Linked DNA regions of Homo sapiens: regions 1 and 2 are each linked to region 3. The links come from fine-mapping of genetic effects on gene expression. A gene starts in region 3. Each other region holds a variant in brackets. All regions are shown on one strand. Distances are between the middles of the regions.

What was found. PIP is the estimated chance that this variant, and not a neighbour inherited with it, causes the effect.
Region 1: its variant is the best candidate, but not a certain one, in a credible set for the expression of PHLPP2 in whole blood (TOPMed, PIP 0.83).
Region 2: its variant is the best candidate, but not a certain one, in a credible set for the expression of PHLPP2 in whole blood (INTERVAL, PIP 0.57).

Annotation. Positions count from the first base shown.
Region 1 is chr16:71,764,765-71,767,442 of GRCh38, reverse strand. It overlaps AP1G1 (adaptor related protein complex 1 subunit gamma 1), which reads left to right. Exons shown (of 23, transcript NM_001128.6): 7 at 1,859-1,954. Among named protein-coding and RNA genes, the nearest start is that of SNORD71, 7.6 kb to the right of the region's middle. The variant A/G (reference allele first, on the strand shown) is at 1,390.
Region 2 is chr16:71,666,170-71,668,847 of GRCh38, reverse strand. It overlaps PHLPP2 (PH domain and leucine rich repeat protein phosphatase 2), which reads left to right. Exons shown (of 19, transcript NM_015020.3): 12 at 1,515-1,670. It also overlaps the pseudogene RNU6-208P. Among named protein-coding and RNA genes, the nearest start is that of SNORA70D, 31 kb to the left of the region's middle. The variant C/T (reference allele first, on the strand shown) is at 1,503.
Region 3 is chr16:71,723,657-71,726,334 of GRCh38, reverse strand. It overlaps PHLPP2 (PH domain and leucine rich repeat protein phosphatase 2), which reads left to right and starts at 1,634. Exons shown (of 19, transcript NM_015020.3): 1 at 1,634-2,006. RefSeq lists a silencer at 2,061-2,678.

The DNA.
Region 1 (2,678 bases), 41 kb before region 3:
CACACTTAGAGATTTTATTTCTCTCTTACCTGTACTTAATCTTACATAGAAGTTTTGGAATATTAAAAGGATTTTGAGGTAGAGTAGTGGGCACCAACTGATTTTCATGGCTGCAGCCTTTCCCTGTGTCATCTTATTTTGTTTGTCTTGTCATCAGTTTTAATAACTTGCATTTTTGTCTGAAAAATGAAACTGGGTTCCAAGAATTGTATGCTGAACATTTAGTCATTTGTGCTCTGTGTCCCAGGGTAATGTTATGTGATGTGCTGGCCTTTTTGGCAGTGGATAAAACAATTTCTGAATTTAGTAGCCCAAGGAAAAATGACTTTTCCAAGAAATAAACCAGATAAAAAATAACTAGGGTTATATCTAGTACAAAAAAAACAGACCATTGGGAAGTATGTAAGATAAGGTTGGTAACTACTTGGTCTTCATTTTATTACAAAAATATTGATTTAAAGTGGTTTTAAAAGGTATATTATTATCTCTAATATAACTTTGCCCATAGTTGACAGATTTAATGAATTTACAGATCTCCATGGCTTAGATTTGTCTTATTTGGAGTTGTCCAAAGTAGACTTTTGTTTAGGTGACTTATAAGTTACTTAATTCCAAACTGTTATGGCTCAACTTATTTAAATTCTTACATACTGTGTTTTCTTGTGTTTATAAGTGGCCTTAATGTTTTGAATGCTTTGAGTGCATGCCTTGGATATAGCTTGGCTTTTCATTTCAATCTTGATCCCCTTTTAGGCTTGGGGAGTAGGGAAGGGACAGAGTCTAAATATAGTGAGAAAAAATAACTGAGTTGCAGCAGAGTTGTAGCTAAAATTGCCTGCAAAAGAGATGGAATGCAATTCACTTTGCACACTATTTAACTTAATTTTTGGTCATTAGAGTTGTTTATATAGCTAAAAATTGAGTTTTTAGTTGGAAACATAAAAAGTTCCTATTGTGGCAAACCTTTTGTTTTAATATCAAGTAATTGATCAACAGAAATGAAATGAGTGCCAATATTTAAAACATCTTCGGCTTGGCAGTAAAATTGCCTTTACTATGTGTTAGGACTCTTAATGGATAAAGTAAAGGAAGGATAGGAAGGAAATTCCTGATTATAAGGAATGTATAGTCTCATTGAAAAGACAAGAAAACAGGCCATAAAGCCATATATATAAATAAGTCCTGAAATTTAAAAAAATTGTATCATAGGAGTTAAGAATAGGAAGAGGAAATTATTCATGGCCTTGATGTCTCTTAAGATGAAAGATGTAATTTTTTCATGTGTCTTCCATTTGATTACCGTATTACTATTGTCAGCTTTGGTATTCCCTGTTGTTTGTTGGAAAAGGGTATAACTCTTCTATCTTAAGAGAAGAGATTTTTTTCTCT[A/G]TTTGAGGTTGTATGTTTTAAAGCTATAATTTTAATAAGATCACTAGTTGTATTTTGGCATGATGACATGTTACATGCAAATGTTTGAATGGGTGAAAACTGAACATGTTTTTGCCACCTAGGCTTTTCAAGTTCTACAGAACTAGAAATGCGGTATGCCCCATAGGCATCTGTTTTACCTGGTTCCCATAGGCTTTCTGACCCAATATTATTTGTAATATCTTTACATATAACTCTTGCATAAAAAAGTCTGGTTTGGTTTTATCCAGATAAAATACATACTACTTCTTGAATATTGCCCTAAGTTACTCCTAAGTTTATCAAACATCTACAATACACTAGTATATTAAATCAGTAGAATTTGCTTGGACTGGGACCCTTACACCCTTTTTCTAAACCAAAGGACCTGCTTATTCATGAGACATTCTTCAATATTCACTGTTTTTTGATGCATCTTTCTTCTCTGCAGCTTGTGCCCCAATTAGTTCGTATTTTAAAGAACCTCATCATGTCCGGATATTCACCAGAACATGATGTTTCTGGTATCAGTGACCCCTTTTTGCAGGTGAGGTTGAAAGAACGTTTTAAATAAATGTTATATGAATTTAATATCTTTAAGTAGACAATTTCCTTCCTCTTAAGTTTGTGTTGAGTAGAAATTTGGTAGTTAATTGATTAATTATATTAATGAATAGTGACACAATTCTATATTAGATTAAGAGGATACAATTACAGGTCTTGCTCTGTCACTTAGGCTGGAGTGCAGTGGCACAATCTTGCCTCACTGCAGCCTCGACCTCCCAGGGTCAAGTGATCTTCCCAAGTAGCTGGGATTTCAGGTGCATGCCACCATGCCCGGCTCATTTTGTATATTTTGTAGAGACAGGGTTTTGCCATGTTGCCTAGGCTGGTCTCAAACTCCTGGACTCAAGTAGCCCGCCCCCCTCAGCCTCTCAAAGTACTGGGATTACAGGCAAGAGCCACTGTGCCCCACTTCAAATTACAGTTTTAATAGTCAAAATCATTTATTATTTGAATTATTTAATATAGCTCTGCAGGTGGTAGTATCTGGTAGTATCCTTTAGCTGTGGAGTACTGAAGTGTGGGTTGTTTTATAATAACTTTATTAGATGTAGAAGCATATATAGCTTCTCTAAATAAAGAAAATGTTTTCAATTCTTCTGTTTGATTTTTGACTATTTCTGATATGAATAAATGGTTCCAAATGAATTTCTAAGACTTCATTTAGTTATTTGAATTTCATACCAAGTGAGATTTCTTTGTGTGAG
Region 2 (2,678 bases), 57 kb after region 3:
TAGAGCAGTTAGGTAACTTGTTGAAGGTTACACTTAACCAGGAAGTGACGGGAGCTGGCATTTGAAGGTAGTCTTTTTTTTTTGGAGACAGGGTCTCATTCTGTCACCCAGGCTGGAGTGTAGTGGCACAGTCACTCCTCACTGCAGCATCAACCTGCTGGGCTCAGGTGATTCTCTGTCCTCAGCTCCCCCTCAGTAGCTGGGACTATGGGTGCACACCACCACACCCAGCTAATTTTTGTATTTTTAGTAGAGACGGGGCTTTGCTATATTGGCCACACTGGTCTCAAACTCCTGGGCTCAAGCAATGGGCCCATCTCAGCCTCCCAAAGTGTTGAGATTACAGGCGTGAGCCACCACACCTGGCCTTGGATGTAGTCGTTTTTACTCCAGAGCCTTCACTCTTTTTTTTTTTTTTTTTTTTTTTTTTTTGAGACAGAGTCTCGCTCTATCGCCCAGGCTGGAGTGCAGTGGCGCGATCTCGGCTCACTGCAAGCTCTGCCTCCTGAGTTCACACCATCCTCCTGCCTCAGCTTCCGGAGTAGCTGGGACTACAGGCACATGCTGCCACGCCCGGCTAAATTTTTTTTTGTATTTTTAGTAGAGAACGGGGTTTCACCGTGTTAGCCAGGATGGTCTCGATCTCCTGACTTTGTGATCTGCCCGCCTCTGCCTCCCAAAGTGCTGGGATTACAGGCATGAGCCACCACCCCCGGCCAGAGCCTTCACTCTTAATCACTACACTGTATAAATTAAATGGAGAAAATCAGAAGAAATTTGAATAATTAGGGAATGTTTCATGGAGAAGATGGCATTTGAATTGACCTTTACTAGATGATGGGATTTTTCTAAGTGGTGGGAGAAAGAGAGTGGGGCTTGGTGAAGGCGGCAGGGAATGATACATTCCAAAGCATTGAGGTATAAAATGTTATTTTCTATGGAGTCTTTAAAATTAAACTAGAGGCGTTTAACATACTAAATATGAACACAATCTTTGGAGTCAAACCTTAATTCAAGTCCAGACTTTACCATTTACTATGCAGTGTGAAATCTTAGGCAAATCAAAGTTACTGAACCTTTCTGAATTAACTTCATTGTTAAGTGGCTTAGCACATTTTAAGCACTCCATAAATAGTAGTTTTTATTGTAATGAAATGTTATGAATTTATTCACAAGATGTGTTAATATTAATATACTGAATTTTTGGTGCTGCTTAGACTTAAAATCTAAATTGATTTATTCTAGAAATTGCCTTTTTAGTATAGATCTCCTCTGTGCTGTTTGCCTTCATTAATTCACCTTTTCTCAGAATGACCTTAATGACTTCCTGGTGGGTGGTAGGTAAACATATGGTCATAGCTGCTTTCTTGGCTCAGGCACTTGTCAGTGAGTATACAATCTAGGAGAATATGTTTCTATAAGTTAACTAATTTCAGTTAAATAGGCTAGGACAGCCTCAGAAAGAATGATTTAAGTAAGTTTTTAATGTGTTTGTTTGTATG[C/T]TCCCCCCTTAGAATTCTGAGTAGCTTGAGTCTTAGAAAACTGATGCTGGGACACAATCATGTGCAAAACCTTCCAACACTGGTAGAGCACATCCCCCTCGAGGTGCTGGATCTTCAGCATAATGCACTCACGAGGCTGCCAGACACCCTCTTCTCCAAGGCCTTAAAGTAAGTATCATAGGATTTTTTTCGGAAGAGCAGAATCATTGGCTAAACAGACTGCAGTGACTTATCATTGGAGTGACCTTTGGAACTGTATTTACAGAGCGTTTACCTAATAGTCCAACTATGAGTGGAGACTTATTTGCAATTTTTATGAAACAAAATATGACACTGTTTTATGAGGCAGTAACTCATAGTTGAAATAACTGTTAAATCCTTAAAGAGGTTTCTGTGTTGTAAACAATTTCAGACAGGTTGAGAAGATTCAGGCTTTCATCTCTGAAAATGAATATAGTTATGATATTTAAAGAGAAATTACAACATTCTGCTGTGGCTTCTTTGGGCAATTTTGAGCTTTTGCATTGGAGAGAAAAGGACGTACCACTAAAGTTAATTTGGTTTTTGCTCCTAGCTTTACCAAACCGCCTTTGAATTACAGTCTTTATGTGCAAACCTTTTTGTGTACTTTTTGAAAACTGTATTTACAGATAATGTCCTTCCAGAAGGTGTCATTTGCCTTCTCACTATAAATTAACAAATAGATGACATGTCTTCCTATTTTAGGCCTGTAATCAGGTTTACCTAATGTGTACATCACCTTTAAGTGAAAACTAGTTTTGTGGAGTTTATTTGTTTTTTGTGGGGTTTGTTTTGTTTGTTTTTTGCTTTTAGAGACATGGTTTCACTCTGTCACTCAGGCTGGAGTGCAGTGGTGCAATCATAGCTCACTGCAGCCTTGACCTCCTGGGTCCAAGTGATCCTTCCTCCTCAGCCTACTAAGTAGTTGGGACCACAGGGATGCACCACCACACCTGGCTAATTTTATTTTTTGTAGAGACACAGTTTCACCGTTTTGTTCAGGCTGGTCTCAAACTCCTGGACTCAAGTGATCTGCCTGTCTTGGCCTCTCAAAGTGTTGGGATTAACAGGCATGAGCCACTGCACCCAACCTGACAACTAGTTTTTTTCTTTTTCTTTTCTTTTTTTTTAATACGGAATGGTTCACAAATTTGC
Region 3 (2,678 bases):
AAAAAAAATGCAAAAAGTAGCCAAGCGTAGGGTGGTGCTCACTTGTGGTCCCAGCTACTGGGAGGCTGAGGTGGCATGATCACCTTAGCCCATGGAGGTTGAACCTGCAGTGAGCTATGATTGTGTCCATACCGTACTCCAGCCTGAGCAACAAAGCGAGACCCTGTCTCAAAAATAAAAAAAATATAAAAGGCTTTTGAAAAACACTTTTTTTTTTCCTTGAGACAAGAGTCTCCCTCTGTCACCCAGACTGCAGTGCAGTGGCGCGATATCTCGGCTCACTGCAACCTCCACCTCCCAAGTTCAAGTGATTCTCCTGCCTCAGCCTCCTGAGTAGCTGGGCCTACAGGCTCGTGCCCCCACACTGCCTAATTTTTGTATTTTTAGTAGAGATGGGGTTTTGCCATGTTGGCCAGGCTGGGTTCAAACTCCTGACCTCAGGTGATCTGCCCGTCTTGGCCTCCCAAAGTGCTGAATTACAGGCATGAGCCACTGCACCCAGCCAGAAACACTTGTTCTAAACCACATTTTTTTCTTATCACTGCTTGCCTGCCCTTGTTAAAATTTGCTTCTGTCTCCATATTGGTGCCTATTGCTTATATACCAGTTTTCTTGTTGGGAGAAATTACCCAGTAAGCACTGAAATGGGAATCCAACTACTTTGAGTACCTTTCCTGAAAATAATTTCAAGGTGGAAGGAAAATCCAGGAGGTGGATGACCTAAGAGTTTTCTCCCACCTTAAACCAGACTCACAGTGACAAATCGTTTTTAATGCATTAAAATGAGGCCAAGAAATGAAGATTACTGGAGATTGGAATTTTGGTATATACAAAGCTAACTTGTGAAGGGAGAAAGTAGGTCAGAAAGGGGTCGGAACCTGCAAGAGCCAAATTTGGTCCTGGCATTTAAAATATCTCCAAATGGATACATATCTCAGATGGGGGACACAGACTGCTCTGTTAAATCTAAAAGTCTTGTACTAAGCCTGCAATTATTCTAGACATACAGTTAGTCTGAATGAGGCAAACTGAAGCAATGGATAATAGGGACAAAGGGTCCTGCTTTGTCACCCAGGCTGGAGTGCAGTGGCACGATCTCGTCTCACTGCAACCTCCGCCTCCCGGGTTCAAGCGATTCTCCTGCCTCCACCTCCCAAGTGGCTGGGATTACAGGCGTGCGCCACCCTGCCCAGCTCATTTTTTTGTATTTTTGGTATAGACAGGGTTTCGCTATGTTGGTCAGGCTGGTCTCGGACTCCTGGCCTCAAGTAATCTGCCTGCCTTGGCTTCCCAAAGTACTGGAATTACAGTTCTATGAAAGTGAAGAAATTACTGTTTTTTGCTGTCTAATTCCTTACAAGTTGCTTGAAGATTCAACACCCTATGTATGAGGGGAAGCCCTAAAAATCTGGAAGTCTAGAAGCCTTCCTAGGAAAATTTAGGAGGAATCGACAGAGTACTTTTCGAGAAACCGATTGGATCTTCAATTTAGAATTTTGGAATTATAATGGCTACTATGGATCCCCACTATACGTTAGGCACTTTGTATGCACTAAATCTTCATCATAACTACTTGGCAGATTTTAATCTCTTTCTCACAGCTTAAGAACGAAAGGCTTAGATCAAGTAACTTGCACAGGGGTATAGATCTAAAGAAGGGCAGAGGGGAGATCTGGAAACAGGCTGGCTGACTCCAAATTTGGCCCATTGGCAACAAAACTACTATCACTGCGAGAACGAAAAGAAAAACAAAACAAAGAAAAGAAAAGAAGTTAACTTTTAAAAGTTTTTTTCTGAATCAGCCTTGCAAATAAATCATAAACCGGGTCACAGGCCATATTACTGCTTGAAGCAGAGCACCGAATTCTGATAATTTTGCTCCAGGAGGAGGCAAGGGAATTAAAACATGGCTGGGAGGTGAGCGGACGTTTTGTACGAGGTTGGGTTGAATTTGCTTAAGAAGGTCGCACGCATCTCTGATAAGGAAGAGAAAAGGCCTTGCCAAGGTGAGTATTCTCAACAGTTCGTTCAACGGCTTGGCAGGTGAGGGAAGTTACAAGAGCCACCCTGGCGGAGGGCAGCGTCTTGTCACAATTGACAGGTGCCGGCGCCACCTGCTTCTTTCTCCCGCGGGTTTCTTAGAGGGCGGGGAAAGCAGCAAATACCCCTCCTTGCGCTCTAGTCCTCCAAGCCTAGGGCGGCGGGCAGTGGAGGCCCAGCGCTCTGCGGTGGTGCCAGGTTCCGCCACGCGGGCCGCGGCCGGAATGCGGCTCGGTGGCGCCCGGGCCACTCGGCGCCGGCAGCTGCTTAGGTCCAGCGGGGCTGCGGGAGGGGCGGAGCTGGCGAGCCGCCGGAGGGGCGGAGCCGGCGGGCCGCGGGGGGCGGGGCCACCGGTTGCTCGCGCGCGCCGCCGAGGCTCCGCACGCCGTCGCGCGGGCCGGGCGTCTCTGTGAATCCTGGGTCGCCGATGGGGGAGGTGGAGCCGGGGCCCGCGGGCCCGCTGGAGCCCCCGGAGCCGCCCGAAGCGCCCGCGAGCCGCCGGCCGGGAGGGATCCGGGTCCTGAAGGTGAGGAGGCGGATGGACCAGCGAGCGAGCGAGCGGGCGAGCGGGCAAGCGGACTAGGGAGGGAACGAGGGAGGCTAGAGGCCGCTGCCGCCCCCGCCCCGCGCAGTGGCTG